Linked DNA regions of Homo sapiens: all the other regions are linked to region 3. Evidence: fine-mapped expression QTL. A gene starts in region 3. Each other region holds a variant in brackets. All regions are shown on one strand. Distances are between the middles of the regions.

Region 1 (5,351 bases), 91 kb after region 3:
CACAGCCAAAATCAGTGATGCCACATTTCAGGCTCCAAACAAGCCAATTTATAAATAAACATGCTGTGTTCGCCAAATCAAGAGGAATGTGTTAAGAGAAGACAACGTGAACTGATGGAGAAGGTGCTGAGCTGGACGGGGAGTGGGAAGGTGGGAGCTTGGCCTCAGCCCTGCCCCTGAGTAGCTGGGTGATGTGGACAAGTCACTGGACTTCTCTGGGCTGGCTTCCACCCCTGTGAAATAGGAGGTACTAGACTAACTGGTCTAAAGTGGGACCTGAGCAATCAGCTGCCTGGTCCTTTTTCAGGTCACACAGCAACTTAGACCAAAGCATGCCTTTCTCTTTCATTATCCCGATAGGGTGACCAAATTGTTCTATCCAGGACTCTCCTGGTTCTAACACACAAAGTCCTGCATCCCAGGAATCTCCTCAATCCTGGGCACATTGGAATGTTATAGAACCAAACCAGGTCTTCTCACCTGGCGCAATAACACCAGATGTCCACACTGAGACTTTGCAGCAATAGAGAAAGGAAGGCATTTGTTTGCAGGACTCCAAGCAAGGAGAATTGGGTGGCTTATGCTTAAGATATGAACTCTTGATGGCTTGCAGGTAAGGTTTTTTTGTTGTTTTTTTTTTTTTTGAGAGAGTCTCACTCACTCTGTTGCCCAGGCTGGAGTGCAGTGGTGCGATCTCAGCTCACTGCAACCTCTGCCTCCTGGGTTCAAGTGATTCTCCTGCCTCAGCTTCCTGAGTAGCTGGGACTACAGGCATGCACCATCACGTGCAGCTAATTTTTGTATTTTTAGTAGAGACGGGGTTTCACTATGTTGACCAGGCTGGTCTCAAACTCCTGGCCTCAAGTGATCTGCCCACCTCGGCCTCCCGAAGTGCTAGGATTATAGGCATGAGCCGCTGTGCCCAGCCACAGGTAAGGATTTTAAAAGGCAGGGGTAAATTTCAGGAAAGCAGATGTTACAGGTAAAATCATAAATCAATATATGGAAGCTATACGTTGGTTTGACCTAAAAAGGCAGGACGTCTCAAAGCAGGACCCACAAGTCATAAGGTGGGTTCAAAGATTTTCTGATTTGCGATTGGTTCAGGAGGCGAAGCTTTGTCTAGACATGTGGGATCAGCAGAAAAGAATGTTAGCTCTGGCTCATGGGCAATGGCCTCCTCCAGGTCCCTCAGGAAGAAATTTAGAACAACGAACTATAGTCAGAGTCAGTCCTCAGCACCCGTTTATCTGAGGTCTACATGCCAGCGGATCCCTTTTGGAGGGGTCTGGGCTTCTGAAAAACAACTCAGGGACATACGTTAAGATGTTATCTTTAGTTTGTAGAGAGGGGAACCAAACATCTCCTGGCTCTAACTTCCTCAGCTATTGTTTTAGACTACTATTACCTTCCTGCTTACCAAGTTGCTGATTTACTTCTCAGGGCTAGCTAGGATTTCCCTGAAGGAACTCAAGATTTTCCTTTATCCCCATGTGTGGGTGTCCCCAGCTCCCTCGCCATGTTTGGTCCCCTCTACCCTTGGCACAGCCCTCCCACCCCATTGGCTGAAGAAATAATGATTTCAAGCACCTGGAAAGCACTTTAGAATATAGAACCTTGCTAGTTAAAGTCTGGTCCAGGGCCAGGCACAGTGGCTCATGCCTGTAATCCCACCACTTTGGGAAGCTGAGGTGGGAGGACTATTTGAGCCCAGGAGTTTGAGACCAGCCTGGGAAACACAGGGAGACATTTTCTCTCAAAACAAAACAAAAACAAAAACAAAAACAAAACAAAAAAAATTAGCTGGGCACAGTGGTACATGCCCTGTGGTCCGAACTACTCGGGAGGCTTGGGCCCAGGAGTTCCAAGCTTCATTGAGCCATGATCACGCTACTGCCCTCTAGCCTGGGGGACAGAGCAAGACCCTGCTTTAAAAAAATGTAAATCTGTATAATAAAGTGTGGTCCAGGCCAGGTACAGTGGCTCATACCTGTAATCCTGCTCTCTGGGAGGCCAAGATGGGAGGATGGCTTGAGGCCAGGAGTTCAAAACCAGCATGAGCAACACAGCGAGACCTTGTCTCTACAAAAATAAATAAATAAATAAATAAAATAATAAAGTGTGGTCCAGCCAGGCAGCATTAGCATTCCCTGGGGTTAGCTGGAAATGCAGCACTCAGGCCCCCCAACCCCAGAACTACTGAGTCCGAATCTGCATTTGAGCAGCTCCTTAGGTGACTCCTGTGAAGGGCATGAAAGTTTGAGATGCACCATTTAGGAAGCAATTCTACCTACATGATCGCAGCCTGTTGGAGAAGCACTGTTTTTCCTTTCCCAGATGAGGAAACTGAGGCTCAGGGAGGTGGCTTACTTATTTATTCACTTGATCCACATTCATTAAACGCCTGTGTGCCAGGCACCATTAAGTGACTTGCACAAGGTCACACAGCTAGTAAGTAGAGAAAAACCCCAAGTGCAGATTTTTGGATTCCCATCTGAGGTTGTTCTCTGTGTACCTCAGGGTGTTGCCAGAACCACATGGCCACAGTTTAATATAGAAGCAGATTATGGATTATGACAGACAGACTGCTCCAGGCCTGTAGAGATCCTCGAAGAGATGCCTAGTGATGACTTCAGATCCTCGCTCTTGGCTCAC[G/A]AAACTGTGAGCTTACCATCTATTTATTTGCACAGTCCCAGGAGCTTGAGAATGTCCTAGTTGTTGCTGCCTCCTTCTCATCCCGCTGCTCACACTAGCGACCCTCCCACATGAAGAATTAGAAGTACTCCTCACAAGCCTTACAGAGCACCAGGCGATGCCTCCATCTAATTTATCTTCTTGGATGGAGGACAATGGATTACTTCCTTCGCCAAGATGGGGCCAGAGGTGCAGGGAGGAAGGAAGAGGGGTAGAATCTTTACTTCAACTGTGAAATCCAGAGAGAAATTTTGTGGGGAATGATTTTTCTGATGTTCATAAAACATTTTTACATTTGGTCCCTAGAGATAGCTAAATTATGCCTACAGTTTTCCACAAAGCTAAAAGCACTGAAAAAAAAATCACCTGAATATGGGCCAATAAAATTTCATCATACCTTCCCAGAGTCTTGGGTTAGAACCTTCCCTTCCAGCTTGTCTTTCCCCTTTTTCAGTCTCTCCCCCTCAAAGTTTGTGTGGTTTTGTTTCTTTGTGTTTTGAGACAGGGTCTTGCTCTGTTGCCCAGACTGGAGTGCCGTAGCATGATCTCGGCTCACTGCAGCCTTTGCCTCCTGGGTTCAAGCGATTCTCCTGCCTCAGCCTCCTGAGTAGCTGGGACCACAGGTGTGTGCCACCATGCACGGCTAATTTGTGTGTATTTGTGTGTGTGTGTGTGTGTGTGTTTGAGATGGAGTTTCGCTCTTGTTGCTCAGGCTGGAGTGCAGTGGCGTGACCTCGGCTCACTGCAACCTCCACCTCCCGGGTTCAAGCGATTCTCCTGCCTCACCATCCCGAGTAGCGGGGATTATAGACATGCACCACCACGCCCAGCTAATTTTGTATTTTTAGTAGAGATGGGGTTTCTCCACGTTGGTCAGGCTGGTCTCGAACTCCCGACCTCAGGTGATCCGCCCTACTTGGCCTTCCAAAGTGCTGGGATTACAGGCATGAGCCACTGCACCCAGTCAATTTTTGTATTTGTAGTAGAGACAGGGTTTCTCCAGGTTGGCCAGGCTGGTCTTGAACTCCTGGCCTCAAGTGATACGACCACCTCAGCCTCCCAAAGTGCTGGGATTACAGGCATGAGCCATTGTGCCCGGCCTTAGATCCCATTTTTAATTAAGAGATGAAGATGCTGCTCTCAGCAAACCTGTGCACTGACTCTGCTCTCCTAAGGAACATTAAGCAATTCCAAGAGCCCCTCCTCAAGGCCAAAAGGGCAGCCTCCTGTAGGGCCTACCTTCCCGTTCTCAGAGCCTCCCTTTTCTCTCTCTTTTTTTTTCTTTCTTTTTTTTTTAGAGACAGGGTCTCAGTCTGTTGTCCAGGATTCAGTTCAGCGATGCAATCATGGCTCACTGCAGCCTTGAATTCCTGGGCTAAAGTGATCCTCCCACCTCCGCCTTCCAAGTAGCTGGGACTACAGGTGGGAACCATCATGCCTGGCTAATTATTTTATTTTTTGTAGAGATGGGGTCTTGTTTTTCTGCCTAGGCTGATCTTGAACTCCTGGGCTCAAGCAATCCTCCCATCTCAGCCTCCCAAAGTGTTGGGATTATAGGTGTGAGCCACCACGCCCGGATGGAGCATCCCCTCTCTACAGCTGCTGACACCCCTCTCTGTTCCCTGGGGCTCTTCTCCCCCAGGCCCATTACAGACTGAGCAGAATCCTCCCAGCTGTGCTCACTCTTCCCTCTGCCTCTGTAGACAAGCACTTAGCCCTCTTTAGCCGTGAAGAAGGAGCCACAACTAACAAAATTAGGCAGAGGTAAACATTACTTAAAACCAAAGGTCCTGGTCTACTGACTTTTGGACTCTGGGATGGTACTGCTGGTGGTGCTGCCGGCAGCTCACATTTACTGGGTGTTTCCTATGTTCCAAGCACATTTTAGGAGATTTACTTGTATCGTCATCTATGGGGTGGGTGCTGTTGCTACCTCTACCCTACACAGGAGGCCACTGAGGCACAGCGCAATAGGGAACTGTATGTTTTTGTATTTTTAGTACAGATAGAGTTTTGCCATATTGCCAAGGCTGCTCTCGAACTCCTGGTCTCAAGTGACCCGTCCGACTCAGTCTCCCAAACTGCTGGGATTACAGGCATGAGCCACCGTGCCCAGCCTGATCTTTAAATTTTTTCTGTAGAGATGGGGTCTCACTATGTTGCCCAAGCTGAGATTTCTTAAAAAGGGACAGCATAAAATGACATGGGGTTTAGCATCAGTAGGTTTGAGTTCAACCTTAAGCTTCCATAATTCTTGTCAGGAACCTTAAGCAAGTCAATTAACCACCCTGAGTTTGAGTTTCTTAATCTAAAAAAACCAGAGAACTGGAAGATTAGTGTGGCAATGCATCTGAAAATATTCTGTAAACCAGAGTGCTGGACAAATGCTAATCTATTATTGAATTCAGCACTTCATTTCAGCGGAGCTAGGAATTCCATATTTGGAGCCACCTTGACAGGAGATGTCTGAAAAAGCTGCTTCCGGTGGCATGCCTTTTGGGCTCCGTGGACAGCCATTGCTGAATAAAACTTAATGACGCCATAGAAACCAGAATGGGCCACTGCAGCATTTGGGAAGACCCGGACTGAATACAAAAGGTCAAACTGGGAAAATGCTGTGAACAGTGAAAGCTGTGGGGGTGGTCCTACGCCAAATA
Region 2 (5,351 bases), 43 kb after region 3:
GCCAACATGGTAAAACCCCGTCTCCACTAAAAATACAAAAATTTGCTGGGCGTGGAGGCGTGTGCCTGTAATCCCAGCTACTTGGGAGGCTAAGGCACGAGAATCGCTTGAACCCGGGAGACGGAGGTTGCAGTGAGCCGAGGCCATGCCATGGCACTCCAGCTTGGGCGACAGAACGAGACTCTGTCTCAACAATAAAAGAAGGCAGAGTTTAAGCCGAGTGTTGAATGACCAGGAATCTGTCAAGGGGAGAAGGCGAGGGTGGCCATTCCAGACAGGAGGACCAGCGTGGGCAGTGGCACGAGTGACCATTGGTGGCTTGAGGCTGTCAGGGGAGTCTGGTCTGGGGGGTGGGCACACAAGGATGCACAAGGTGGTGAGAGGAGAGAGAAGGAGCTAGAGAGAGGCTGGGGCTGGCTGATGGTGGGATCTTGCATGCCAGCCTAAGAGCTTTGGTTTTCGTCTCGAGGACAGTGTCTTCAGGGAGCCCTGGATAGCCTGTGAACAGAGCAAGGTGTTTTTGATTGGTTTGACTGCCGTGCTGAGGATGGGTGGAGGCATGGGCTGTCTGGAGGCAGGAAGGGAGGGCAGTGGCAGAGGGAATAGCCCCCGACACCAACCAACCATGCTTCTTCCGCTCATCGTCCCCCAGCCTGCCCCAACCCCAGGTCTCCAGATTGTGTCGCTTATCGTAAGAGCAGAGTGCCTTCTGGCAGGTGAGGAGTGCAGGAACCCCTTGTCCCTGCTCACGCTGCGCCCAGGGCAAGGGCCGGCTGGGCAGCTGGCAGCCTGGCAGGGAGAATGTCGTTTACTCTGCTGTGTCTGCCGCCACCACCGCTGGGCAGCCTGATTAATGACCCAGGGCTCCTCACAGGTCAGCGGCCCCACCTCTGTGGCGGTGGCTGCCAAGGGAACCTGCCTGCCCTGCCTCCATTCCTCCTGCGGCTGGTGCTCTTGGGTCGGCTCCAGGAAGGGCTTCCACATCGCCCCTCTCTGGCTCTTAAGTCTTTCTGCCAACCATTTCCCTGGCCTCCTTTGAACCCTGGCCCAAGTGCTCCTCTGCAGGAGAGCCTTTGCAGAATGAACCCCCAGCCCATAGCATTCTAACTTCTTTATTTCATCTCCATCAGGCACACAGCAAAGGCTCAAAGATATGCCTCGAAGGAATCCTTGCTGCTTCTCTCCCCTTCCCACCACCCTGGTGATGCTGTGTGGACTCTGGGTTCTGTATTAGCTCTGCTTGAGGGTCTGTGTCTGCTCCTCTGTTTATATAAGTCCCATTCCAGACTGGAAACTCCCCAGGACCAAGAGGCAGCCTCCTCCTTTAGACTGGTGCCTTCTAAGATCCAGATTTTTCTCCTTCTTTTGAGACAGAGTCTCGCTCTGTCGCCCAGGCTGGAGTGCAGTGGCGCGATCTCGGCTCCCGAGTTCAAGTGATTCTTGTGCCTCAGCCTCCCAAGTAGCTGGGATTACAGGCGTGTGCCACCAGGCCACACTAATTTTTGTATATTTAGTAAAGACGAGGTTTCGCTGTTTTGTCCAGGCTGGTCTCGAACTCCTGACCTCCCGTGATCCGCCCGCCTCGGCCTCCCAAAGTGCTGGGATTACAGGCGCGAGCCACCGCGTCCAGCCCAGATTTTCCTTTTCCATTAAATAGGGTACTCTTCCAGGGCAGGGACTATGACTCTCCCTCGGCCTGGGAGCTCCCTGAAAACAAGGGCCCGGTTTGAGGCCATCCTGTCTGTTCCTCCCTTATGCCCCATGCCAAGCTCAGCCTTGGTCCTGGTCTGAAGGGATGCAGGGGCTGCCGGCCTCCTGGCTTGTCTGGGAACAGGAGGGCTGAGCATGAGGGCAGCAGGCGTGGATTTGGCTGTGGCCAGGCCTGTTGGGGCACCACTAGGGGCCAGCTAGTGAGCTGTCTGGGGCCAAGGGGGAGTCCAGGGGGTCCTAGGCCTAAATCAGCCCTTGGGGCCACAGGTCCAGCACCCTGGGAGGGTGGTGACTTCCTGTACCCAGAAATCTGAGTGGGGAAGGGCGGAGAGTCAGTCCTGGCATGCTGACTACTCACACCTCCTGTGGGCTTTATCTTGGGTGCCGGCAGGAGGACAACCACAGCTATTATGTGTCCCGTCTCTATGGCCCCAGCGAGCCCCACAGCCGGGAACTGTGGGTAGATGTGGCCGAGGCCAACCGGAGCCAAGTGAAGATCCACACAATACTCTCCAACACCCACCGGCAGGCTTCGGTGAGTGCCCCAGTCGCCAGCCATGCTTCCCTGTGCTGGGAGGCCGGGGGCCAAACCACCCTGCCTGGTCAGTGGGCATGGCTGTGGCCCGAGGTCTGTGACCTGGGAGGTACCTTCCAGGGGTTCCCATGGGACTTTGCCAGAGTTGGGGTGCCCAGCAGTGGCCCTGGGCATGCCTGCTCCCCACTCTGTCCAAACAAGCATGAGGCAGTGTGGGTGCCCAGGCCCCTGGCCTGCAGCTTGGCCCGTGCTGACTTTCTCCCATCCCCTGCAGAGAGTGGTCTTGTCCTTTGATTTCCCTTTCTACGGGCATCCTCTGCGGCAGATCACCATAGCAACTGGAGGTAAGGCCACGTCGTGGGGCCCCGGGGAGAGTCTGGAGACCTCAGCCCGAACTCAGGGGCCCTCCCAGGGGTGGCTCACTGGAGACAG[G/T]GTTATATGAAATGGGAGGAAGGCACATTTGGCTCTAATAGGAGTCTGATTCTCAGGAGGGGGGTCAGTGGACGTCAGAGCATCTCCCTTGCATTAGCTGACCTGCTCATGTGCCTGCACGTGTGTGTCTCCTCGGGCCAGCACGAGTCAGTGTGGACAGCCCTGTGTCCCGGAGTTGCTGAATAAGAGGGAGAGGGAGACTCCACTGAGAGCTTGGGCTCCTGGGGCCAGGCTCCCTGTTGATAGGAGGCACCTGTCTTTAATCCCTGCACTTCAGTTCCACATCCCACTTCCCCAGGGATGGGGAAAGCTGTGAGTCCTCTCCTCTTCCTGCCCCCTCGCCCTATAGTCTGTGCCCTGCTGAAGGGACAGGGAGGACCTTCTCCTATCTGGGGTCCTTTGGCTCCATACACACCAGACCCAGAGCCCGCCAGATGGGGATGGGCGACAGAGGTCTCAGGCTCACTTCCAGCTCTGCCTGCGCTGCCCTTCTTGCCCTTGGGGAAAAGGCCCCCAAAGCGGCCCCTCTGGGCCATTTCTGGTGACTCCTCTGCACCTCTCCCACCCTAGGCTTCATCTTCATGGGGGACGTGATCCATCGGATGCTCACAGCTACTCAGTATGTGGCGCCCCTGATGGCCAACTTCAACCCTGGCTACTCCGACAACTCCACAGTTGTTTACTTTGACAATGGTGAGACTGGATCTCAGAATTTAAGTCACCCAGCTCCAGGGATCCCTTGTCCAGTCCTTTAGAGGAGCACAGGGCCTAGAGAGGGCAAGGGTCCCACAGTCCCACGGCAAAGCAGCCACCTACCTTTCTCTGCTCAGTTTCCTGACCTGTCAGATAGGGGCAAAAATGCCTGCTACCCAGAAGAATCTGATGAGATAACAAAACGACAGTGCTTGGCTCTTAGTCGAGGTAAAATAAATGTTAGGGGCCTTTATTGTTACTTACATTCACCAGGATGTCCCTTGAGCCCCGTCTGAATCCAGGAGAACAGACATTCCTCCTTCTTTTATCTCAAGGAGTCAGAATAGACAAGAAGGAAAGGGAAAGAGATGATCAAGTACAGTATCTGGGGCTGAAGCAGGATCTTCTGGCTCCTCTGCTGCTTGGAAGCCGCGCTGCTTTAGTGAGCTGCCCAGCTCCTGCCTCCTTACCTTTGCAAACTTCCCCATCATCCCGAAGGGACCCAACCTGTGGCCGCTGCCCTCCGACTGGCATTTCTGTAGGGCCCTGCTCCTTGCATGATCTCCCGTCCAGCCGGGTCTCTGTTCTTCTCCCCAGGGACAGTCTTTGTGGTTCAGTGGGACCACGTTTATCTCCAAGGCTGGGAAGACAAGGGCAGTTTCACCTTCCAGGCAGCTCTGCACCATGACGGCCGCATTGTCTTTGCCTATAAAGAGGTGAGTGGGCCCAGCTGCAGAGACAGCTGGGTCTTGGAGCCTTTCTTCATTCAGCAAATATTTAGAGAATTTGCAATGTGCCAGGCATGGGGCTTGCTGCTGGTAATACAGCAGTTAACAAGATGTTTGCGGGTCCTACCCTTTTGGAGCAGTAAGTCTGGTTGCGGAGGTGGACAATAATTACAGGGACAAATGTAGAATCACCACTGTGACAAGCGCTCCCAAGTAGAGGTGCCTGGTGCTAGCTGAGCCTTTCACAGACCTCTTAACCTTGGCAGAGGCCAGGGGAGGCTTTGCTGAGGAAAAGAGTTGAAATCTGAAGGATAAATACGAGTTCAGGAAGCAAAGAGGAGAGTGAAGTATGTTCTAGGAGAGACAACAGCACACAGCACATGCAAAAGTCCTGAGGCAGGACAGAGCACGGCTGGCACAAAGCACTGAAAGAAGGCAGCATGGGCCAGGTGCGGTGGCTCACACCTGCAAACCCAGCACTTTGGGAGGCTGAGGTGGGTGGATCATCAGAGCTCAGGAGTTCGAGACCAGCCTGGCCAACATGATGAAACCCCATCTCTACTAAAAATACAAAAAATTTAGCCGGACGTGGTGGCAGGCACCTGTAATCTCAGCTACTCAGGAGGCTGAGGCAGGAGAATCGCTTGAACCCAGGAGTTGGAGGTTGCAGTGAGCTGAGATCGTGCCACTGCACTCCAGCCTGGGCAACAGAGTGAGAATCTGTCTCAAAAAAAAAAAAAAAGAAAGAAAAAGAAAAAAGAAAAAAGAAGGCAGCATGATGAGCCAGGGTGGTGGCTCATAACCCCAGCGCTTTGGGAGACTGAGGCGGGAAGATTGCTTTAACCCAGAAGTTCAAGACCAGTCTGGAGAACATAGTGAGACACACACCTCTATTAAAAAAAAAATAGAAGAAGGCAGCATGGTTGGAAGGGAGAGAGTGAGGGGCAGGACAGGGCAAGGGAACCACAGATTTGCCCTTGAGAAAAGTCACTCTGGCTTCAGAGTGGAGAACAGGTTGTTGGGGGCTTAGAGGGAATACTGGGAAGTAATTTAGGAGAAGGGTGACAGCAGCTTAGAGTAGGATGAGGGGAAATGGAAAACAGACAGATTTGAGAGCCACTTAGCAGGTTAAGCAACAGAATTCGGAGATGCATTAGATGGGGAAGGGAAGAAATGAAAGAAAGGGAAGGGAAAAGGGTATGTCCCGGGTTTCCGGCCTGCATGGAGTGCCATTCACCGAGACAGAGGAAAGA
Region 3 (5,351 bases):
CTTTCGCAGGCGAGTGAGGATGGAGTCCTGGCCCCTGCCAGTGGCTCAGCCTGTGTGTGTACCCAGGGTAGAATGCAATGCGAGTGAGGGCGAGGAGCTCCGGGCTGACCCTTGGAACACGGTACGGGTGGCTCAACCTCGCAATGGCAGGGCGGAGGCGAGCGCACCCCCAGGTCAGCCTGGCTCTTTCTTGGCGGGAAGGAGGCTGAGTTTCTAAGGGCTGGGCTGGGGAAGACAGGTCGGGAGAAGCCGCGTGAGCATGTGGGAGGGAGAAAGAAGCTCCGAGACGTGGCAAGGGGTCTTCTGCAGGGCAGGAGAGTGGGACGCCCCCGAAGTGAAATATTTCGAGAGACTTCTCCTTCCACACCCCAGGAATATATTTTCTTATACTGCCAGTGGGGATCTTCAGCTCAGAGCTTCAGGGAACAACCCCTGCTTCCAAGTGAGTAATTCTTCTGGGAGTTGTATTTTTTCCATCTCTTGTAAACGTCTTACCCCACTTCCACTTCCCTTCGGGAACGCCACACAGCGCCTGCGCAGCAATACCACTAAACGACTACGTGCGGTCGGTTTGCCGGCAGAGGGGGTATAGCTCAGTGGTAGAGCATTTGACTGCAGATCAAGAGGTCCCCGGTTCAAATCCGGGTGCCCCCTCTTTGGCCTTTTCGAGATACTGTTTTTGTCCTGGGTGTCGATTTTTCCTAAGCTGTTTGCTTTTACTCCTACTGGCAGACGAGGAGCAGTGAGGGACTGAAAGGAACTGGGGATTCAACAGCAGTGGCTCTCAAAATGTGGTCCTGGGACCAGCAGCATTACCTGGGTACGCTCGGGCCTCATCCCAGACCTAATGAATTAGAAACTTGAGGGTGGAGTCCAGAAATCTGTGTTTTCATATACGCTCCCCATCGCTTGAGTCCAGGAGTTGGAAGCTGCAGTGAGCTATGATCGCAGCACTGCACTCCAGCCTAGGCAACGTGCGAGAACCTGTCTCAAAAAACAAACAAAATACACACACACACACACACACACACACACACACACACACACACACACCCTGCAGGTGATTACGATCTCAAGTTCTAGAGGCTTACGTTAAAATTTACACATTTGCTTCTACTATTTACAAGTTTATGTTTCAGCCTGAGCTCTTCTTGTAAGACAGACCACGAGGTACCCCAGATGGAGGAATGTGCAAAGACGCCGGGGCTGGAGCTGGAATCCGTCCCGAGACTTCTCACCTTGACCTCGAGGAAGGCAGGAGGTCGGAGACAGGGGGTGGGCAGGCTGGGGAAAGAGGAAACCCGCAGGACAAGAGGGTTGTGGCTCGTCACGTGGCCACTTGAGGGCAGCAAGTAGCTGCAGCTGGAGGTAGCTGCCTATCTGATTCTGTTTGAGAGTCCGCCAAGTTGGGATTTAAATTAGACATCAAGAAGAATTTACAGACCGGCCTTGCCTTGTTCCACGGTAAGGGGACATTGGGTTTAGGGCTGGAGGAGGTAGTCTCTGGGACTCTGGGCCCGGCGGAAGGAGGAACCGGCGTTCTAAGAGATTAGAGAGCCTTTAGTTGTTTCCTTTCTTAGGTGTTTTTTTTTCTTTTCTTTTCTTTTTTTTTTTTTTAACCTCAGTGCCACGGAATCCGTCTCTTCCAGCCCACAGTGTACCTTCTCCTGTCCCCGCCCATATCCCTCCTCCTGGAAAATTTCTCCAATGGCGCTCAGCGTTCGCACCCTTCCTCTCCGCGGTTTTCTAGTCCCTAGGCCCCAGCCCACTAGAAGCCAGGATGCCCCCTCACCCCGTCTCCCACTCTCCAGCGCCCCAGCTCCTTGCCGTCACAAGAACGAAGTAGGTCAGGGGAGGGAAGAGGCATCTTCGTGTCCTGACCTGATTCCTTGCCGTCTATTAAATATCCTACATTGCGGGTATTTTTATTCTGTCCTGGAAGAAAAAATAAAAAGATTATCTATCCCCAGAGCCTGTCAGAAGGTGGTGACAGGTGGGGTGAGCCATTTCCTCGTCTGGGGCTGGCTCTGAAGATTGATTGGGTCTGGCCCTGAGTAGGCCTGGAGGCCCCAGAGAGGCAGGAGGCCTGGGTTACCTACTCGTGGGGAGGGGTCCAGACTGTTGCAGAGTAAGGGGTAGCCAGGCCCCCTCCACCCTCACGTCTGCTAGGCTTGGGGGGCAAATCGGTGCTGGAAATGGGGGGTGGAGGGATAAGGTGGAGTCATGGAAGGGGGGTGGGATTCAGGCCCCTCTTGGGGAGAAAAGCTGGGGGTCTTTGCTGCAGGGGGAGATTTCTGGGGGTGGGGGCTGGAGGACAAAGCATCAGAGACGCACAGAATTCCGAAGAACAGCTCAGGAAGTCGCAGAGCTTGGAGGAGCTGGGGGCGGGGAACAGTCAGGGGCCCGTGACCCAGGGATGGGGCGCCTGTCCCTTCCAGGGGTCCAGTCCTCGGGCCTTCTCTCTGCAGCTTTCCCGGCGGAACGGAGGAGGGAAAGGGAGCCAGGAGCTCAGTGAGGAGCGCGGGGCGGCTGATGCTTCTAGGGGTTCTCTCAGCCCGAGGGGCTCCCGCCCTGTCCCCTACTCTGCACCCCTTGCCTTGGGAGCGGCTGCAGAGCTCTAGGGGAGCGCTCCGTTAGGGCTGAGGGCAGGCGCCGGGAGAGCCCCCAACGACGCCGCGCCCCCCGCCCCGCCCCCTGCCCCAGCTCCCCCCCACCCCCACCGACCCAGCGGCCCCCCCAGCTCCCCGCCTGCTCCCGGAGGCCGCAGCCTCCAGCTCCGCTCGCGCTCTCGCCGCTCCTGCCGGCTCGCCCGGCCCCGCGCTCCGCCGTCTCCTCGCCGCCCGCCCCTCCGCCAGCCCCGGGGACCGCGCGGCCGCAGCCTGAGCCAGGGCCCCCTCCCTCGTCAGGACCGGGGCAGCAAGCAGGCCGGGGGCAGGTCCGGGCACCCACCATGCGAGGCGAGCTCTGGCTCCTGGTGCTGGTGCTCAGGGAGGCTGCCCGGGCGCTGAGCCCCCAGCCCGGAGCAGGTAGGACTGGCGGGAGCCGGCCCGGGTGGGCCGGGGGCGGGGAGGGACGGGCAGTCAGGTGTGGGCATGGGCAGGTGTGGACGGCCTGGCGATGTCCGCGAGGGGGGCATTGTCCGCAGGAGGCCAGGAGAGCTGTGGGCTGTGGGCAGGTGGATAGGGACCCCACTTTCCCAAACACATAGGGTGTGTGAGTGACGGTGGAGACACCGATGCCCGGACCTCTCCTTCTCTCCTGGAAGGATACTGGAGGGACCTTAGGAGAGGGGGCTCTATGTGGCCATGGGCTCTGAAAGGGGACAGCGGGAGAGTCATCAGGACCCCTGATCACCCCAGGCAAGGCTGAATTCTGATGAGATGGGAGCCTGGGGAGGCCCCTGCCCCAGCCATGCCTTCTTTTCCTCTTCTCTGCCACACCCCCGACCCCAAAGCTGATCCAGGCTAGGGATAGGTGGGAGCAGCCAGGGGGATGGTGGGGACACAGCGTCTCTGCCTGGGAAGGCAGCAGCCATTCGGTCACCTTCCCTTGCCTATTTGGTGTCAGTAGAGAGGCAGTGGGCCCAGGAAGAAGCAACTTGCTGCTTCTGCACCCCCAGCCTCAAGAGTCCCCCTCCTCACACCTGCTCCCATTTGCCCTGGCAGCCTTTGGCTTTCAGCTACTCTGGCTCTAGATGGGGCACTGGGGTAGGGGGTGGAGGGAGGCGTCCCATTCTGCACACTCCTCTTCCCCCCTACCAGTTCTCCAAACTCATCTCTCCCACCTGGAAGTCCTTTCTGAGATCTACCTGGAATCCCTCATGGTATAATTTTCATAGTCTCTGTTCTCCCCTAAGCACCTAGACTTTCTCTGGGGTTGGGGAGATGGGTAATTTGCAGCCTGGCCCCTCAGCAGAGATGATTAAGAAGATAGATACCTGTGCATCATTGGCATGGGTGCCCCTCAGGTGGGGTGAGGGAGGCGCTGTTGAGGTGAGTGCTGTGGTTGACCTGCTGTGTCTCAGGAGTGTGCTGGCACCAGGCACAGTGTCAGTGGCAATGTTCTTGACTTTAATGGTCCCAGCATGTAGCTGAGACAGACCTGGGTCCCTATTGAGAAGAAGAGTATGTTGGGGGTGGGAGGGGAAGGAGGCTGACAGTGGGAAGTATGGGCAGAGGGCAGTGGAGCTGACGAACCGAGAAGCTGCTGGTGAGAACCACCAATTTTCAGGGAGACCACACAGAGGGTGGCCAGAGACGTGGCTTCTAGTCCCGCCATCTCACTTGCTGTGTGACTTTAGACAAGTTACTTTCTCTCTCTGGACCTATTTTTGCATTTATAAAGTGAGGCTGTTGGCAAAATCTTTGACTCTTGTGCGTGGAATAATGAAGGATCTTTTATAATTGCCTTTCCTTTTCATATTTGTTAGGGTCTTTATGGGTAACTGATACTTTAAAAAAATCAAGGTAAACAGGAGAGAGTTGGATATGTTATGAATAATTTCTGGGCTCCTTTGAATCCTCAACCTGGTGTGATCTTCTGAACTCTGGGTGTAACAGAGTTTATGAGGGGAGGATCTGAACCTTTGGCTGGATTGTGTGAACCACGGAGAGGGCTGGGGAAGGGGGAATTGGGAGGTAACAAGGATGGGCTGGGAGATAGTGGCCAGACCCGGGCCTGGCTGAGGGCGGCCCCTTCAGAGTAGGGTTGGGGTAGTAGACGGTTGAGGAGACCAGGAAGAGTGGGGCAGGCAGAGACTTGAATCACTTCTCTAAGTAGAGGCTATCCTGTCTTCTTGGCTTTGACAGAGATTGAGCCAGGAGAAATGCACTTTTTCTGCAGCAGGAGGGATAGAGGTTAGACTTAAGGAATCTGTAAGAAGCCAGAGGCGGCAGCTGTTGACTCCCAGTCCGGTGCCCTTTTCACAGGCCAGGTGGGATTTCACAGGCAGGAGGACCTATGAGGAGGAAGCGGGTGTCTGGGGAGGCCAGATGTAGGAGAAGGACGTTCTGGGGGAGAGTTGCTAAGGAGGGGCAGCCTGACCTGATTGATGGCGGAGTTGTTGTGACCAGTGGAAGGGCAGCTGGGAGCAGGACCTGAAGAGATGCTAGCATCCTTCCCCAAGGCTCTGGGTTTGTGGGGCTGGTGGGGGGCCTTGGGAAGTAGCTGAGATCTCCCCTCGCTCCTGATGGACAGGCTTGTTTGGTAGAGCCTTGAAACCTCATCTATCATTAGAACAGCAGCAGCAGAGAGATGAGTGGCCCAAAGACAGAGTCAGACAGCAGGGGAGACCAGGATGACAGACAGGAAAATGGCCTTGGGGTGCAGAGCAGGGGCCCAGGGAACTGACA
Region 4 (5,351 bases), 36 kb after region 3:
AAAAGAAGAAAAGAAAAGAGAGAGAGACAGACAGACAGAGAGAGAAAGAAAGAAAGAGAAAGGAAGGAAGAGATTGAGAGGAAGGAAGGAAGAGATTGAGAGAGAGAGAGGAAGGAAGGAAGGAAGGAAGGAAGGGAGGGAGGGAGGGAGGGAGGGAAGGAATTCTAGACTAAAAGGACTGGCTCTAGAACGCCGCGGGTAGGTGGCAATAGCTTTCATTGCATCACTGATGCTCAGCCCTGAGGAACCTGGGTAAACTCTGGCCTCATAAAGAACTGGATGGAGACAATCAATACAGGCAATGGAGCAGCCCTGCCCCAGCTGAAGTCTCTTCTTTTTCATTCCACAAGGCCTGAGTGGTTGGCAGAACTGTTGCACCTCCCTGGGCATGTGGACAGATTGGAGGATGCTGGCCAATCAAACCCTTTACTCAGCTCTGCTTCCAGAAAGTAAAAGGCATGTCTCTTGGTTTTGTTTTGTGACAATGTCTTGCTCTGTTGCCCAGGCTGGAATGCAGTGGCATGATCATGGCTTACTGCAGCTTTGATCCCTTGGGATCAGGCAATCCTCCTGCCCCAGCCTCACAAGTAGCTGGGACTACAGGTGCATGCCACCATGCCCAGCTAATTTTTGCATTTTTTTTTTTGTAGACTTGGGGGGAGGGTCTCACTATGTTGCCCAAGCTGGTCTTGAACTCCTGGATTCAAGCGATGTTTCTGCCTCAGCCTCCCAAAGTGCTTCTTGTCTTTTGAGAGTACTGGTTCATTGGTTGGATTCAGATGGCAAGTGGACATTGCGGTTGACTTTTCAACATATATTTTACCTTACAGCCTTGTACAATAGGAATGGGATCTTGGGTTCCATGATAATCCTACCCCCCAGCTGGTGTTTGGTTTAGGTGGAAGCTGTTTAGCATCTAGGGCTTCCTAGTCCAGAGGTGGCAGGGGACCCAGGTTGACCCTGCCATCTTGAAGCACACGTGTTCATTCAGTGGTCGGGGAGAGGTGTGCTGTGCCTGTCTTGCTTCCATGAGCCAGGGCTAGTTGCCACTGTCTGCCATCCCGTCACTACAAGATGCCTAGCCTTACAATGAAGCCCACACTGAAAGTGGCAGAGAAGAAAGACTGAAAGAGCTTGGTCTTGGTCATTGAGCCACATTCCCCGTCAACCCTGATGTCAGGCCTTTGCTCACCCAGCTTCCATTCCCCATTCCTAGCGGAGCCATGATCCCCAGTTCCTGGGGGAAGTAGACTGGTTTAACCAATCTGGCACGCCCTGGCCCTTGTAATAATCGGGGGCCACATCAGACTGAAGGGAAGATCTTGTGTTCCACTCTTGGTGCGAGGTTTCTCCTTTTGAACCCGACAAGGAAGCATGCTGCCTCAGTGGCTATAGGCAGCCCTCTTTGGACCAGGAGGCAGTCACACTTAGGACAATGTCCTGATGACACGAGGATCATCCATGTTCCATGCCTGCTGCCAGGCTCTCAGACGCTTGGTCTAACACATGTCCTCCGTGTTGAAGCTGGGTTTCTCTTCCTTGCCCCCGAAGGTATCTGCCTTGTTGGCTTTACTTCCTCAGAGAAGAAATTGAGGAATCCAGAGACACCTTCCTGTGTCCAGGATGTCCCAGGTTTGGGAATGCTGTCTGTGGGCTTGGATTCCCAGAGGAGGCAGCTGGTTCCTCCACAAGTGGCTTTTGTGTCACCTGCCACTGGAGATGGGGGAGGATGCTGTCCTTGTCAGAGCCACACTGCACATTCTCAGCACAGTCTTGACACCATTGGCTGCAGAATCCTTGTGATTCAGCTCATTTGGCAAGCAGATGCTGAACACCCACCAGATGCCAGGTGCCAACCCCTGCGCTAGGGAGGTGCTGGGGGCGGAGATGAATGTGCCACCATCCCTGAGCTCCAGCCTCCAGACAGTGGTCCTTCTGATTGAGAGTTTAACCAATGACTGGTAGGTAGCCTAAGTCACCTTCCCGGAGAGCTGTTGCTTAAAGATCTCAGAGACAGTGGATAGAGGAAAGGTCACTGTCTTTGAGTGGAACTGACCTGGTTTCATACAGTTACATTATTTCTTTTTATTTTTTGTTTTTTTGAGACGGAGTCTCACTGTGTCACCCAGGCTGGAGTGCAGTGGCGCAATCTCGGCTCACAGCAACCTCCACTCCTGGATTCAAGCAATTGAATATACTGCCTCAGCCTCCCCAGTAGCTGGGATTACAGGCATGCGCCACCACACCCAGCTAATTTTTGTATTTTTAGTAGAGATGGGTTTCACCATGTTGGCCAGGCTGGTCTTGAACTCCGGACATCAGGTGATCCGCCCTGTCTCAGCCTCCCAAAGTGCTGGGATTA[C/T]AGGCATGAGCCACCATGCCTGGCCTAGTTACATGATTTCTAGTCTCAGTTTCCCCACTGAGAAAATGGGACTAATATTAGTGCTCACCTCCTAGGGTTGCCCTGCAGTAACAAATATGAAATGCCCAGCACTCTCCCATCACCACTCAGCAAATGCCAGCTTCCCTTCTCCTTCCTCCCACGCTCCCAAATGCTCCCCTGCAGGCTTTGTGCTTGGCTCTGCCCAGGAGTGATCCCCCTGCAAGTCGCCCCCTCCCTCCAGGGTGCAATTTGGCCTCACCCATCACTGTGTGGCCACCCTCAGCCAGAGCTGAGTAGATATGGCTCCTGGCTTCACTGTCCTGGAGTAATAAAAGTCAGGTGTGCCAGGAGGGCAGTCTGTTGGGCCTGTTTGGGACCTGCAGCAGATTCTGCATGGCATTGCCCTTGAGCCAGTCCTCCCCCTGGCAGGCCAGCTGTACTTGGCACTTCTGAGGCCTGAAGCAGAGCTTGGCCTCACCCTCGCTGGCCTGAGTAGGGCATCGTTAGGCTTCGAGGCTCTTGCCTTCCCTGGGATCTGCTGACTCATTGGAGAGAATCAGCTTAGGAGTTAGAGGCAGCAGCTCGTTTCATTTCTGACTTTCCTTGAGTCAGAATAGATGGAAGTTTTCTGTCAGTTAAGAGGTGCCATTGCAGGGGTCATCGGGAACTCCAAGAATGAGTCCAGGGATCATCCAGGTGTCAGAGCTGAGGCACGTGACACAGGGCCTGGTTTCTCTGCAGAACAGCACTAGTTTGGATCAGACTGCTTGTCTTTGCTGTGAAGCAGAGAACTCCGAGCAACGGGCCAGGAAGATGCATTCCCAGGAAGCTCACGCTTTGCAGTCTTAGCTGAGGCGGCAAGAGACACGTCAGCATCTGTTTGGGCTTCACAACTGCAGAGCGTGGCTTCTGTCCCGGGCACTCATTTCAGACGCCCGGAGGTTTGGGGAAAGCTCTCGCTGTGCGGGGCCCAGGAAGCAGGCTGATTGAAACCAGACCTTTCTCCGAGCCTCAAAGCAACCGTCTTAAACACTGGCCCGCTCAGGTTCCCAGGTGGAAGCTGTATTCAGTTGACTCTGAGACTTACCTGAGAGCACCTGTTTAGCATCTGCAGCTGTCCTGCTTTGTTTGGTAAAATGATCCTATCCTGGACTTCAGAATATGTAGTGGTACCTGTAAAACAGGCAGCTATAATTTGTGGTCATTCTTTGCTCAACAAATCCTCCATTGAACACATACTCTGTGCTTAAACACGATAAATAAAGGCTGACCTTACTCTTGGGGTCTTACGATCTTACAGGAAAGGCAGACATGAAGATGTGTATAAAATCCAAGTAAATTGTCACAAGTGTGCAAAACACCAGGAGAAAGAAGCACAGGGTGTGATGGGAATGCAACAGGGAATCAGAGAGGCTTTCTTGAGGAAGTGACTCCTGAGCTGAGGCTGGATAGGTGAGGAAGGGTCAGCTCCTGAACAGGGAAGGGAAGAAATTTTGAGGCACAGGCGGCACCAAGGTCCTGAGGCAGACAACTGTGTGGTGATTCCCAGAACAAGAGAGCAGGGGAGAGGAGGAGGTGCTGAGTTGGGGCCAGACCACCACACGTGGGGAAGGATTTGTGTTTCCGTTTAACAGAGAGCTAAACCCAGGGACTTAAGAAGCAGCCCTCTAGCATGTCATCAGGGACCAAGTCTCCATCTAGTTGTCCACTTCACCATCCTTAGGGTGTGGCTCTTGTCCTTATACTCACAAGATGGCTGTTGGAACTCCAGCCATCATGTCTGCATTCCAGGCAGGAAGAAGAAGGGCAAAGATAAGAGGGACAAGCAGTCAAATTTGATCTCTTTCAGAAGGTTCCACTAGAACCTTCAGCTGATGTCATGAGCCAGCCTGTGTCACATGGTAATCCTTAAGACATCCAGGGAATGAGGTTTATTAGATGGCTACATCATTGCTGGTTGCTACAGAATCAATCTTTTTTTTTTTTTGAGACAGAGTCTCACTGTGTCACTCAGGCTGAGTGCAGTGGCTCAATCACAGCTCCCTGCAGCCTCGACCTCCTGGGCTTAAGGGATCCTCCTGCCTCAGCCTCCTGAGTTGCTGGGACTACAGGCATGCACCACCATACCCAGTGAATTGTTTTATTTTATTGTATTTTTTGTAGAGACAGGGTCTCACTATGTTGCCCAGGCTGGTCTTGAACTCCTGGCCTCAAGTGATCCTCCAGCCTCGTCCTCTCAAAGTGCTAGGATTACAGGCATGAACCACTGTGCTCAATCCAAAATCAATTTTCTATTAGTAAAGAAGAGAAGGGAATGGCGGAAGGGGCGTAACCTTTGTTCTGAGTGCAACTGGGGAGCCACAGAATGGCCTAAGCAAGGGGATGATGTGGAACAGGGAAAACAATTTCAGGTTGTCCCAACTGGGCCACAGTAACACACACCTGTGGCACAGATATTCATTTCCTAGGGCTGCCAGAACAAATTACCACAATTTTGGTAGCTGAAAACAACAGAAATTTATTCACTTGCAGTTCTGGAGGCCAGAAGTCTGAAATTAAGGTGTCAGCAGGGCCACGCTCCCTCTCAAGGCCCTGGGAAAGGAGCCTTCCTTGTCTTGTCCTAGCTTCTGGATCTCCTGGAAATCCTTGGTGTCCTTGGTTTGTAAACAGCGTCACTCTAATCTCTGCCTTCATTGTGACAGGGATCCTCCCTGTGTCTCCTCTGCGACTCTGTATCCACATCTCCCTCTTCGTTTACATAAAGACACCGGTCATTGGATTTAGGGCCCACCCTAATCCGGTCTGCCTTCATCTTGACTTGTTTCATCTGCAAAGACTATTTCCAAATAAAGTCACATTCATAGGTACCAGAGGTTCACACTTGAACATATCGTTTTGGGTAACACAGTTGAAACTCACTACAGCATGCAAAAGGATGGAAAGGCTATCTGGTGCTGGCTGGGCTAAG
Region 5 (4,610 bases), 59 kb after region 3:
ATTGCTCAGGGAGTTGTAGACTCAGAGTGGGGCCGGGTCGGGGGGCAGTCACTTTGCCTGAGAGTGGGGGAAGTCTTCAAGGAGGGGACGTCATTTGAGCTGAGTCTTGAAGTATGAGGCAGTTGAAGCAAGAAAGGTTGACATTGGACTCTAGAACCTATGGCCTCAGGCACCCTGGAAGTCAGGACATGGGAGACTTGGAGTTTCATGTTTATTTTTGATCCCATTGCGTTTTGGTGCTGAAGGGGAAGGAGAGATGGCCCCTGGGAGTAATGAGTGGGGATGGTGTGTGAAAGTCTGCTTCAAACTTTCCATCCTCATCTAGATATTCCCAGGCCCCCAGGCTTACTCAGAGCCCAGGCCACCTTCTCATGGCCATTGGCATCACTCAGGGGCACCTGCAGCACAGGTGGCCTTGGTGCCACCTCTGGGCATGTGAATTACAAAAAGGTGCCCATCCTCCAATCTCTGTCAGATCCCACTCGGGCTTGGCAAAGGGTCTTTCTTGTGTCAAAGGGTTGCATATGTGTGTGCATATGAGTATGTGCTCATGTGCAGGTGTGTGTGTGTCTTGGAGGGCTGGGGTGTGCACATGCGTGTGCGGGGCTCTGTGAACCCCTCGCCACCTCAGCTTTCCATGGAGGGTTCCCTCCTCTTAGAGCCACAGTGACTCTGTAGACACCCGGCAGTTACTGCCTGATATTTACGAGGCTTGCCACGGGGCCTCCTCTCTCAGACTTAGGGTTCTTTAGGAGACAAACACACAGTCATTCCATCTTTTGGATTTTGGCTTAATTTTATATATATATATATATATTTTAAGACGGAGTCTTTCTCTGTCGCCCAGGCCGGAGTGCAATAGTGCAATTTCGGCTCACTGCAGCCTCTGCCTCCCGGGTTCCAGCGATTCCCCTACCTCAGCCACCCGGGTAGCTGGGATTACAGGCGCGTGCCACCATGCCTGGCTAATTTTTGTATTTTTATAGAGATGAGGTTTCACCATGTTGGCCAGGCTGGTCTCAAACTCCTGACTTCAGGTGACCCGCCCACTTTGACCTCCCAAAGTGCTGGGATTACAGGCATGAGCCACTGTGCCCGTAATTTTTAAATAAATGTTTTTATTTTTAAATAAACAACTGGGCTCGGTAAATTGTAAAGAGATGTGGCCTGACGCAGTGGCTCGCGCCTGTAACCCCAGCACTTTGGGAATTGGAGGCGGGAGGATTGCTTGAGGCCAGGAGTTTGGGACCAGCCTGGGCAACATAGGGAGACCCTGTCTCTACCAAAGAATAAAAAAAAATTACCAGGGCATGAGCCTTTGGTGGGGGAGGTGGAGCTGGGGGCAGGGACTGAAGTGGGAGAATCACTTGAGCCCACGAAGCCAAGGCTGCAGTGAGCCGTGATTGCACCACGGCACTCCAGCCTGGCAACAGAGTGAGACCCTGTCTCGAACAAAACAAAACAAAACAAAAAAGAAAGAAATGTAAATGTTTCCCTTTGACTCTTTTAGAAACACAAATCAGGAAGCTCTCAGCAGGGGTGTGCTGGAGATCATGTATGCAGCTGGGTGAGAGGCAACTGAACATGTCTCTTCCTAACTCCATGTTCAGTAACTTTTTTGAAAGGGTAGCTGGAAGTCAGCTACCGTGGAAGTATTTACACCACAGAAATTGGCAACAACGGCAATTCAGGACTCCTCTGCCCCTACCTGCACCCCAGCCCCCAGGCAGTTGTTAAATATTTATCTGCACTCACAACTTTGGTGACTTTCTGGAGCCACAGTGGCTTCCAGCCCTGAGGTTTTTTAAAAGTCTAGCCTCTGATTTTAAAACAAAGACTGTGTGGCTTTGGGCAAATAACGTCCCCTCTCCGATCTCACTTTTCTCCTTTGTAAAGTGGGGAGAGCAGCGATGTCTGTCTGTGCACCTCAGGAAGTTGTAAGGGGAAATGAGATGGTGCAGCTCCAGGGAACCTGCAAGGCTGCGAGCTAACAGAGTGCTCTGCAC[T/C]CAGCACAGCCCCTGCACAGAGCAGGTGTCTGCACCGACATGCTGAAGGAGTCAACAAATGTGCTGCATGGTGGCGCTGTGCTCTTGTAGTTTTCTCGTTTAAGTAGATGTTTTCCGTCTACTTAATGGCTAGGCTTGGTAAATTGTAAAGAGATGTGGCCTGTGTGGTGGCTCATGTCTAGAACCTCAGCGCTTTGGGAGGCTGAGGCAGGCAGATTGCTTGAGCCCGGGAGTTGGAGACCAGCCTGGGTAGTACAGGGAGACCCATCTCTACTAAAAATACAAAAATTAGCCAGGCATGATGGGGTGTGCCTGTAATACCAGCTACTTGGGAGGCTGAGGCAGGATTACTGAGCCTGGGAGGTCAAGGCTGCAGTGAACTGTGATTGCGCCATTACACTCCAGCCTGGGTGACAGAGCGAGACCCTGTCTCTAAATAAATAAATAAATGAAAAAGTAAAGTGCTATACAAAGTTGTATCTGTCTATGGGTTAATCTGTCTGAACCTCAGTTTCCCCACTTATGAATGAATGGCAAGACAACTTGATTTTTTTTTTTTTTTTTTTTTTTTGAGATAGAGTCTCACTCTGTTGCCCAGGCTGGAGTGCAGTGGTGCAGTCTCAGCTCACTGCAGCCTCCACCTCCCGGGTTCAAGCAATTCTCCCGCCTTAGCCTCCCAAGTAGCTGGGATTACAGGTGCTCACCACCACGCCTGGCTAATTTTTTAAATTTTTAGTAGAGACGGGGTTTCACCATGTTGGCCAGACTGGTTGCAAACTCCTGACCTCAAGTGATCCACCTACCTCGGCCTCCCAAAATGCTGAGATTACAGGTGTACAGCCAACTTGACTTCTTAACTCCCTTGCTCTCTCAACCTGATATGTCTGAGTCTCTGCAGCTGTAGCTCATCTCCTCTCTCATAAAGCCCACACCTGCGCAGTGCTCGCCTTGGGGACCACCTGGACTCCTCATCCCACCCACTCTGTCCAGCTGCTTTCCTGAGGAGGAGCAAGTTCCCTGATCTGCCTGGGATGGAAGGAAGGGAGGGAGACGTGGGAGGAGGCCTGGATCTCATTCTAAACCATCCGGCTCCAGTGCAGGAGTCGGGCGAAGGAAGGAGCTGCAGGGCTGGAGCTGTCATCCTCCTGGTAGGAAAGGAAGACCAAGGCTAAAGTCCTCTCCACTGCCTCTCCCCATGGGAGTCAGTGGGTGTGTGTTGCGGGGAGATGGATTCCAAGATAAGTACTCTCTGAGCAGCCCTCAGAGGGGGCGTGGGAAATTCACCTCAGTCTCCAGGGTCCCCAGTCCATTCACCACCTGAGCACTGCCGTCCCCCACTGCTCCCATGACCTCATTCTCCAGTGGTGGCAAAAGCAAGAAACAGTAATCAGGAAGAAACAAGGGGAAGCTAGGGTGGGGGCAGTGGCATCCACAGCAGGAGAAGCAGGCAGCCTGGACTGTGGGGGCAGCAGAAGAGAGGAGAGGCCTGCAGGATGACGGGTGGGAACAGGGCGTCTGGAGTGCCAGCACAGTACCGCGGTCAGGCCGCCTCTGTGGGCCTCCTCTCTCTCCACAGCAGCGGGGAACTGGGGGACCCATCAGACTTGCTGACAAGAAATATGCCGTCCTAGAGAGAGAGAGACAGAGGGAGAAAGACAGAGTAAGGACAGGAAAGAGAAAGCAATGCGTGCCATCCTTCCTCCTCATGTTCAAGTTTATAAACATTGCTTAAGGTGGACTTTGAGGGGTTAGAAGAGGCTGAAAATGCCCTAGAGTCTCAGCCATGAGAAGAACAGCAAAAAAGCAGTCGGGGCAGAGAGAAAAGGGGCTCACATGCTTCGAGGGCTCCTGGGGTCCTTGTGCGTTGAGTGTCTCCCTTAATTCTCAGGACAACACCATTTGCATGGCATCACCAGCCCCATGTGTGGATGCGGCTCACTGAGTCCCTTGTCCAAGGTCACACAGGCGGTAAGGGCAGAGCCTGTCTGCCCAGCTGCGGCAACCCTAAGCCTCCTCTCCTTGTGTGGTCACCCTCCGGGGGCCGAGCTTCTTTTCCTCCATGCTCTCATCAGTGCCCCCATCTGCTTTCCCCTTTCCACTCGGCCTGGAGCAGCATCTGGCCTGTGGGTAGCAGGTGCACCCTCCTAGTGGCATGGGAGTGGGGGGCACCAGCATTTCAGACAGGCCTCAGGGATGTAGATGCTGCTCAGCTCCAGGGAATCTTTATTGACACCAATGCCAGAGTAGTCTTCTTTTCACTGCATGGAATGACATTCCAAGGTCTTGAATGTTTCAGGGGCTGAAGTGTCCTGCAGCAGGGCATTGTGTTGGGAAGAGAGCATGCTTTGGTGCCAGACCCACGGGGGCGCAGTCCTGGGTTAAGTAGGAGGGACTAATTCCAACGTTAAGGATAAATAAATAATGAGATACAGGCCAGGCATGGTGGCTCACACCTGTAATCCCAGCATTTTGGGGGTCTCAGGCAGGCATATCACCTGAGGTCAGGAGTTTGGGACCAGCCTGGCCAATATGGTGAAACCCCCTCTCTACCAAAAATACAAAATATTAGCCAGGTGTGGTGGTGGGCACCTGTAATCCCAGCTA
Region 6 (5,351 bases), 120 kb after region 3:
GGTGAGGGAAACTACTTTAAAGTGGTCATAATTCCTCTTCTTAGATGACTATGATTGTCATGTGTTTTATTTTTAATTTAGAGCTCGTGTATAACTTGTCTATGTAAGTTGAACTAATAATGTGACACACAAACTGTTGTAAAAAATGCCAGTTACTGCCCGGGGGTGGCGGCTAACGTCTATAATCCCAGCACTTTGGGAGGCCGAGGTGGGCGGATCACCTCAGGTCAGGAGTTCAAGACCAGCCCGGCCAACAAGGCGAAACCCCATCTCTAAAAATACAAAAAAATTAGCGGGGCATGGTGGTGCGCACCTGTAGTCCCAGCTACCCGGGAGGCTGAGGCATGAGAATCGCTTGAACCCGGGCAGTGGCAGTTGCAGTGAGCCAAGATGGCGCCATTGCACTCCAGCCTGGGCGGCAGAGCGAGACTCTGTCTCAATTAAAAAAAAAAAAAAAAAAAAAAGCCAGTTACTTTGAATGTGAGCATTTTTTCCAAAATCATTTATGTGTCGAATTCCTTCTATAAATCAATGTGAAAATGATTTTAAAAATTCAACGAGATCATGAACAAAGGACAGAAAACTCAGAGAAGAAACACAAATGTTCAATAAACACATAAAAACATTTCATTAAATTCATAAGTAATCAGAAAAATTCAAATTTAGATGGGATACCTTTTATTCATCCATAACATCAACAAAAAGTTGGAGAATAGCCAGTGGTGAAAAGGTGTGGGGAAATGAATGCTGTCATACTCTGCTGACGATAGTGTAAGTAGGCACAACATTTTTGACGGCAATTAAAATTTCATATCTACATAGGCTTCACTCCAACAATTCCATTTCTAGATATCTATTCTACAGAAATACTTGCCCATGTTCACAAAGAAGCATGGATTTCATTGCAGCAATGCATGTAACAAGAAAACTAGACATAATCTAAACATCCATCAATGGGGGAACTATTAAATAAACTATGATACATCCATACTATGGAATATTATGCAGGAGTTTAAATGAATGGGGTAACCCTCTAAGTACTGGGAAGGAAGGAAATCTAAGACACATCATGAAGTGAAAGAATCAAGTTGCAAGATGTTACCATTTATGTAAAGAAAAAAGATTTTTAAAACCACACAACAAATCTATTTTGCTTTATGTAAATATGTATGTAGGCAAATGGGAAAAAGTCTGGAAGGTTATATACTAAACACAGAGTGTTACCTCAGGGATGAGGGAGTAGGACACAAGGAAGATTTTTGTTATAGCTGTTATTTCATTTTTATACATTAAGAATATAATCATGGGCTGGGAGTGGTGGTTCATGCCTGTAATCCCAGCACTTTGGGAGACCAAGGTGGGAGGATCACTTGAGCCCAGGAGTTTGAGACCAGCCTAAGCAACATAGGGAGACCCTGTCTCTACAAAAAATAAAAAATTAGGTGGGAGTGGTGGCATGCACCTGTGGTTCCAGCTACTTGGGAGGCTGAGATGGGAGGATCACTTGAGCCTGGGAGGTGGAGGCTGCAGTGAGTAGTGATTGCACCACTGCATTCCAGCCTGGGGAACAGAGTAAGATCCTGTCTCCGAAAAAAAAAAAAAGAAAAAAGAAAAAGAAAAAAAAATACCCATGTATTATTTGCATAATAAAAATAAATTTAAATTGACTCTTATTTTAAAGAGAGCCTACCAAATTTAATTTTAAAATTACCACACGATTGCAATCAACAGAGGTTCATTTGGGGTATGGAAGGGAAACATGTTTTCTCAGAGGTACCGACCTCAAAATTCTGTACCAAGAAGGATCTTACAATGCAGTTAGTTTTTTGTCATATTTGGAGAGAATATACTCACAGTTTCTCAGTCCAACTGTATGCTTTCCATACATCTTCACCAATGTAAGAAATATAGTTTCCTTGGAAATTTCTGTGAAGAAACACAGTTCATATCCTTGAATAGGTAGGAAAAGAATGAACAGGATAAGTAAAAGAATCATGGCAACCTTGTGGGGGATATTCAGAAACAGAGAATAACACCTGCTTTCTCATTTCCAGAGCTATCAGCTTCCCAGTTTGCACAATTAATCAAGAAATAATGTGGGACCACTGGCACAAATGAGGCATCTCCCGGAAGCTTAACTTCCTATCCATCCCATCTCTTAGACAGATAATGCCGGTTAATTACTTTGAATGTAAGGACTTTATCCAAAATCACTTATGTGTCTAAACTAACTCCTTCTACAAATCAAAAATGGTAAATACCTCAACAGAAAAATGGGCAAAAGCTTATTATTATCAACAAATAAGAAGAAAGAAACCCTATGCCGGATAACACCAAAGCTTTGGCCCAGTGCCCTCAGTTGAAACATCCTAGGCTTTTTTCTTTTCACTCCTATCACAACCAATCTGATTTAGCCCCTTCACACTTTACTCCTAGATTTTGCTAGACCTTTCTATTTTGTCTCCCTGAATTAAGCTTTCCCCTCTAGGGCATTCTACATATGGATTCTAAAATAATCCTTTGCATGTCTACACTTGAACATTATGCAAAAAATAAAATAATCCTCCCTGTTTTAATCATTTAATCTCTCTTGGTTGGAAACTTTCAA[T/C]GGCTTCCCATATCTCACTGTGTAACTTTTAAACTCCCATACCTGATAATCAAGGTTTTACATAATCATTTCTTCATCGCTCCCTCGCCTGATTCTTTGCAGCCAGATTGGTCTACTAAATTCTCATCATATCTGTAGCCATGCCTTTGCCTAGATTGTACTCCCATTTTTTCCCCTATTTAACAAATTATAGCTACTTTTTAACCCCCACGTAAAGTTTTAGCTTATCCATGTAGCTTTCTCTGACCTCCAAATCTCAAGATCACAGATTTTGGTGAATTCTAGCACCGATGGTCTGCATTATCTTTTAGTACTTAATTATATATACCTCCCTTTTTATGCCTATTCTCTTTCTTCCCTCCTACCATTTTCGTGTTCTAGGGACAGTAGCATACTTGGCTCTGGGTTGGACACAAAATGAGTGCTACATATAGAAAGCCAGGGACAAAGATGAGTTCTGGACATAACTCAAAGACTGAGTAATCATGTTCACAGCCAACCCTCCTGCATATGCTAGGCACTGATGAAGTGTTTCATATATTCACTCACCTAAATTTCACAACAATCCTATGAAATGGTAACTAGCATAATCCCCAGTTTAAAGATGAGGAAATTAAGTCACAGAGCAGAATAACTTGCTCAGGGTCATCAAGCTAATAAATGACAGCCCTGGGTTCAAACCCAGGCAGCCTGGCTCTAGAATCAACTCTTAACCATTTAGAGCATCATCACTGAGATGGGGAGAGGGACAGGCTGCTGTGAAGAGGGTGAAGCGAAAATGGGAGGAGAGCAGCGGTTAAGCAATGATGCGATGGGGCTAAATGAAAATGGACAAGTAAACAAGTAAGAGCAATCACAAGTAAAAGACTGGAGAAGGGGCCTAATAGTAAAGGAGAACGACGAGAAAGAAGAGATTACCGGCAGAGGTGAAAGCAGAAAGTTAGTTGTCAGTATAGCTTGGGGAGATAAAGAAGGCCCAGGAAGGCCTCCAGGAAAAGGCTGCCATGTGAGGCAGGACACAGAAGACAATGGAGGAAAGGTGATTCTTACAAGATGGTGAAGGTGCCATTGTAGGTGTTGGGCTCTGGCACAGGCACTCAGCGGAGCCTCTGCTTTGGGCTGAGATCGATACACGACAGCGTCTCATCTCCGCAGGTACAGAGATCACATATGTTGGTGCTTGTGGAGGCCTTCTGTTCCTCTGGTGCAGTTAAAGCCTTATTTTGGGCGTAATTTTCAGACTGCACCAGTGAATCCTGAGTAGGTTCTAGTTCAGTAGGTGGACCTGTGACTTCAGTCAGGTTTCGATGCTGAGTCTGAACCTGGTCTGGACGTGGAGCTATAGTCTTCTCCAGGGCTGTAGAATATCCAATCTCTGTAGTGGGTTCTGGAGTGATGGCAAGCCCCAGGTCTGGAGACTGAGTTGAGGTCTCCTCCGTGGTTGGAGACGGTTTAACATCTATAGTAGGTTCTATAGTTATGGTAAGCTCCAGGTCCAGAGGTTGAACTGTGACTTGAGTCAGGTTTGAATGCTGAGCCTGACCCTTGTCTGGCGGTGGAAGTGTCACCTCAAGGTGCTCTGGAGGAGGAGCTGTAGTCATCAGGGCTGTAGACGGTTCAACCTTTGTAATGGATTCTGGAGTGATGGTAAGCCCCAGATCCAAAGGTTGAACTGTGACTCTGGGTGATGTTGGATGCTGAGCTTGATCCTGGCCTCGTGTTGGCATGGACGTCTCATAATACACAGGAGGTTGAGCTACAACCTCCTTACGTAGCTCTGGAGGCTGAGTTGGGGTCTTCTGCATGGTTGGAAAAGGTTCAACCTCCATAGTGGATTCTGGAGTTAAGGTAAGTTCCAGATCCAAAGGTTGAACTGTGACTTGAGTCAGGTTCGAATGGAGAGTCTGAACCTGGTCTGGATGTGGAAGTGTCACTTTAGGGTGCTTGGGAGGAATCTTCTTCAGGGGTGTAGAATGTTCAACCTCTGTAGTGGGTTCTGGAGTGATGGTAAGTCCCAGGTCCAAAGGTTGAGCTGTAACGCTGGGTGACATTGGATGCTGAGCTTGATCCTGACCTGGTGTTGGAACTGTTACCCCTTGATATGCTGGAGGTTGGGGTACAACTTCCTTAGGAGGCTAAGTTGGGGTCTCCTGAATGGTTGGAGAAAGTTCAACCTCTGTCATGGATTCTGGAGTGATGGTAAGCCCCAGGCCCAAAGGCTGAACTGTGACACTGGACAGTGTTGAATGCTGAGCTTGATCCTGACCTGGTGTTGGAATTGTCACCTCATAATGAGCTGGAGGTTGAGCTGCAACCTCTGTAGGTGTCTCTGGAAGCTGAGTTGAGTTCTTCATGGTTGGAGGAAAAAAACATGGTTGCGGAGTTGTGGTAAGTTCCAGGTGCAAAGGTTGAACTATGACCTGTTAGGTTTGTGTGCTGAGCCTGAACCTGGTCAGGAGGTGGAAGCATCACCTCAGGGTGTTTTGGAGGAGCTGTAGTCTTCCTTGGGGTTGTAGAATACTCAGCCTCCATAGTGGATTTTGGAGTGACGGTAAGTCCCAGGTCTAAAGGTTGAAATGTGACACTGGGTGATACTGGAATCTGGGCTTGGTCCTGGCCTGCTATTGGAATTGTCATCTCATGCACTGGAGGTTGAGCTGCAACCTCCTTAGGTGACTCTGGATGCTGAGCTGGGACCAGCTGCTGGCTTGAAGGTTCTACCTCCATAGGGGGCTCTGGAGTC

The links. PIP is the estimated chance that this variant, and not a neighbour inherited with it, causes the effect.
Region 1: its variant is fine-mapped to the expression of PLXDC1 in whole blood (TOPMed, PIP above 0.99).
Region 2: its variant is fine-mapped to the expression of PLXDC1 in whole blood (TOPMed, PIP above 0.99).
Region 4: its variant is fine-mapped to the expression of PLXDC1 in whole blood (TOPMed, PIP above 0.99).
Region 5: its variant is fine-mapped to the expression of PLXDC1 in whole blood (INTERVAL, PIP above 0.99).
Region 6: its variant is fine-mapped to the expression of PLXDC1 in nasal epithelium (TOPMed, PIP 0.97).

The regions. Positions count from the first base shown.
Region 1 is chr17:39,057,828-39,063,178 of GRCh38, reverse strand. It overlaps the pseudogene RDM1P5. Among named protein-coding and RNA genes, the nearest start is that of LINC02079, 33 kb to the right of the region's middle. The variant G/A (reference allele first, on the strand shown) is at 2,656.
Region 2 is chr17:39,106,142-39,111,492 of GRCh38, reverse strand. It overlaps PLXDC1 (plexin domain containing 1), which reads left to right. Exons shown (of 14, transcript NM_020405.5): 3 at 2,102-2,245; 4 at 2,520-2,589; 5 at 3,248-3,370; 6 at 3,968-4,086. It overlaps LOC124903995 (a long non-coding RNA gene), which reads right to left and starts at 238. Exons shown (of 2, transcript XR_007065744.1): 1 at 1-238. RefSeq lists a silencer at 2,395-2,583. The variant G/T (reference allele first, on the strand shown) is at 2,678.
Region 3 is chr17:39,149,037-39,154,387 of GRCh38, reverse strand. PLXDC1 (plexin domain containing 1) reads left to right here and starts at 2,751. Exons shown (of 14, transcript NM_020405.5): 1 at 2,751-3,026. The coding sequence starts at 2,951. It overlaps TRC-GCA2-3 (tRNA-Cys (anticodon GCA) 2-3), which reads left to right and starts at 583; the gene lies at 583-654. RefSeq lists enhancers at 1-218, 219-725, 1,098-1,247.
Region 4 is chr17:39,112,869-39,118,219 of GRCh38, reverse strand. The region is part of intron 2 of PLXDC1 (plexin domain containing 1); the gene reads left to right. LOC124903995 (a long non-coding RNA gene) reads right to left here. Exons shown (of 2, transcript XR_007065744.1): 2 at 4,876-5,219. Among named protein-coding and RNA genes, the nearest start is that of PLXDC1, 36 kb to the left of the region's middle. The variant C/T (reference allele first, on the strand shown) is at 2,363.
Region 5 is chr17:39,089,926-39,094,535 of GRCh38, reverse strand. All of the region lies in intron 7 of PLXDC1 (plexin domain containing 1), which reads left to right. It also overlaps the pseudogene RDM1P5. Among named protein-coding and RNA genes, the nearest start is that of PLXDC1, 59 kb to the left of the region's middle. RefSeq lists an enhancer at 1,463-1,532. The variant T/C (reference allele first, on the strand shown) is at 2,007.
Region 6 is chr17:39,030,745-39,036,095 of GRCh38, reverse strand. It overlaps the pseudogene LRRC37A11P. Among named protein-coding and RNA genes, the nearest start is that of LINC02079, 6.3 kb to the right of the region's middle. The variant T/C (reference allele first, on the strand shown) is at 2,609.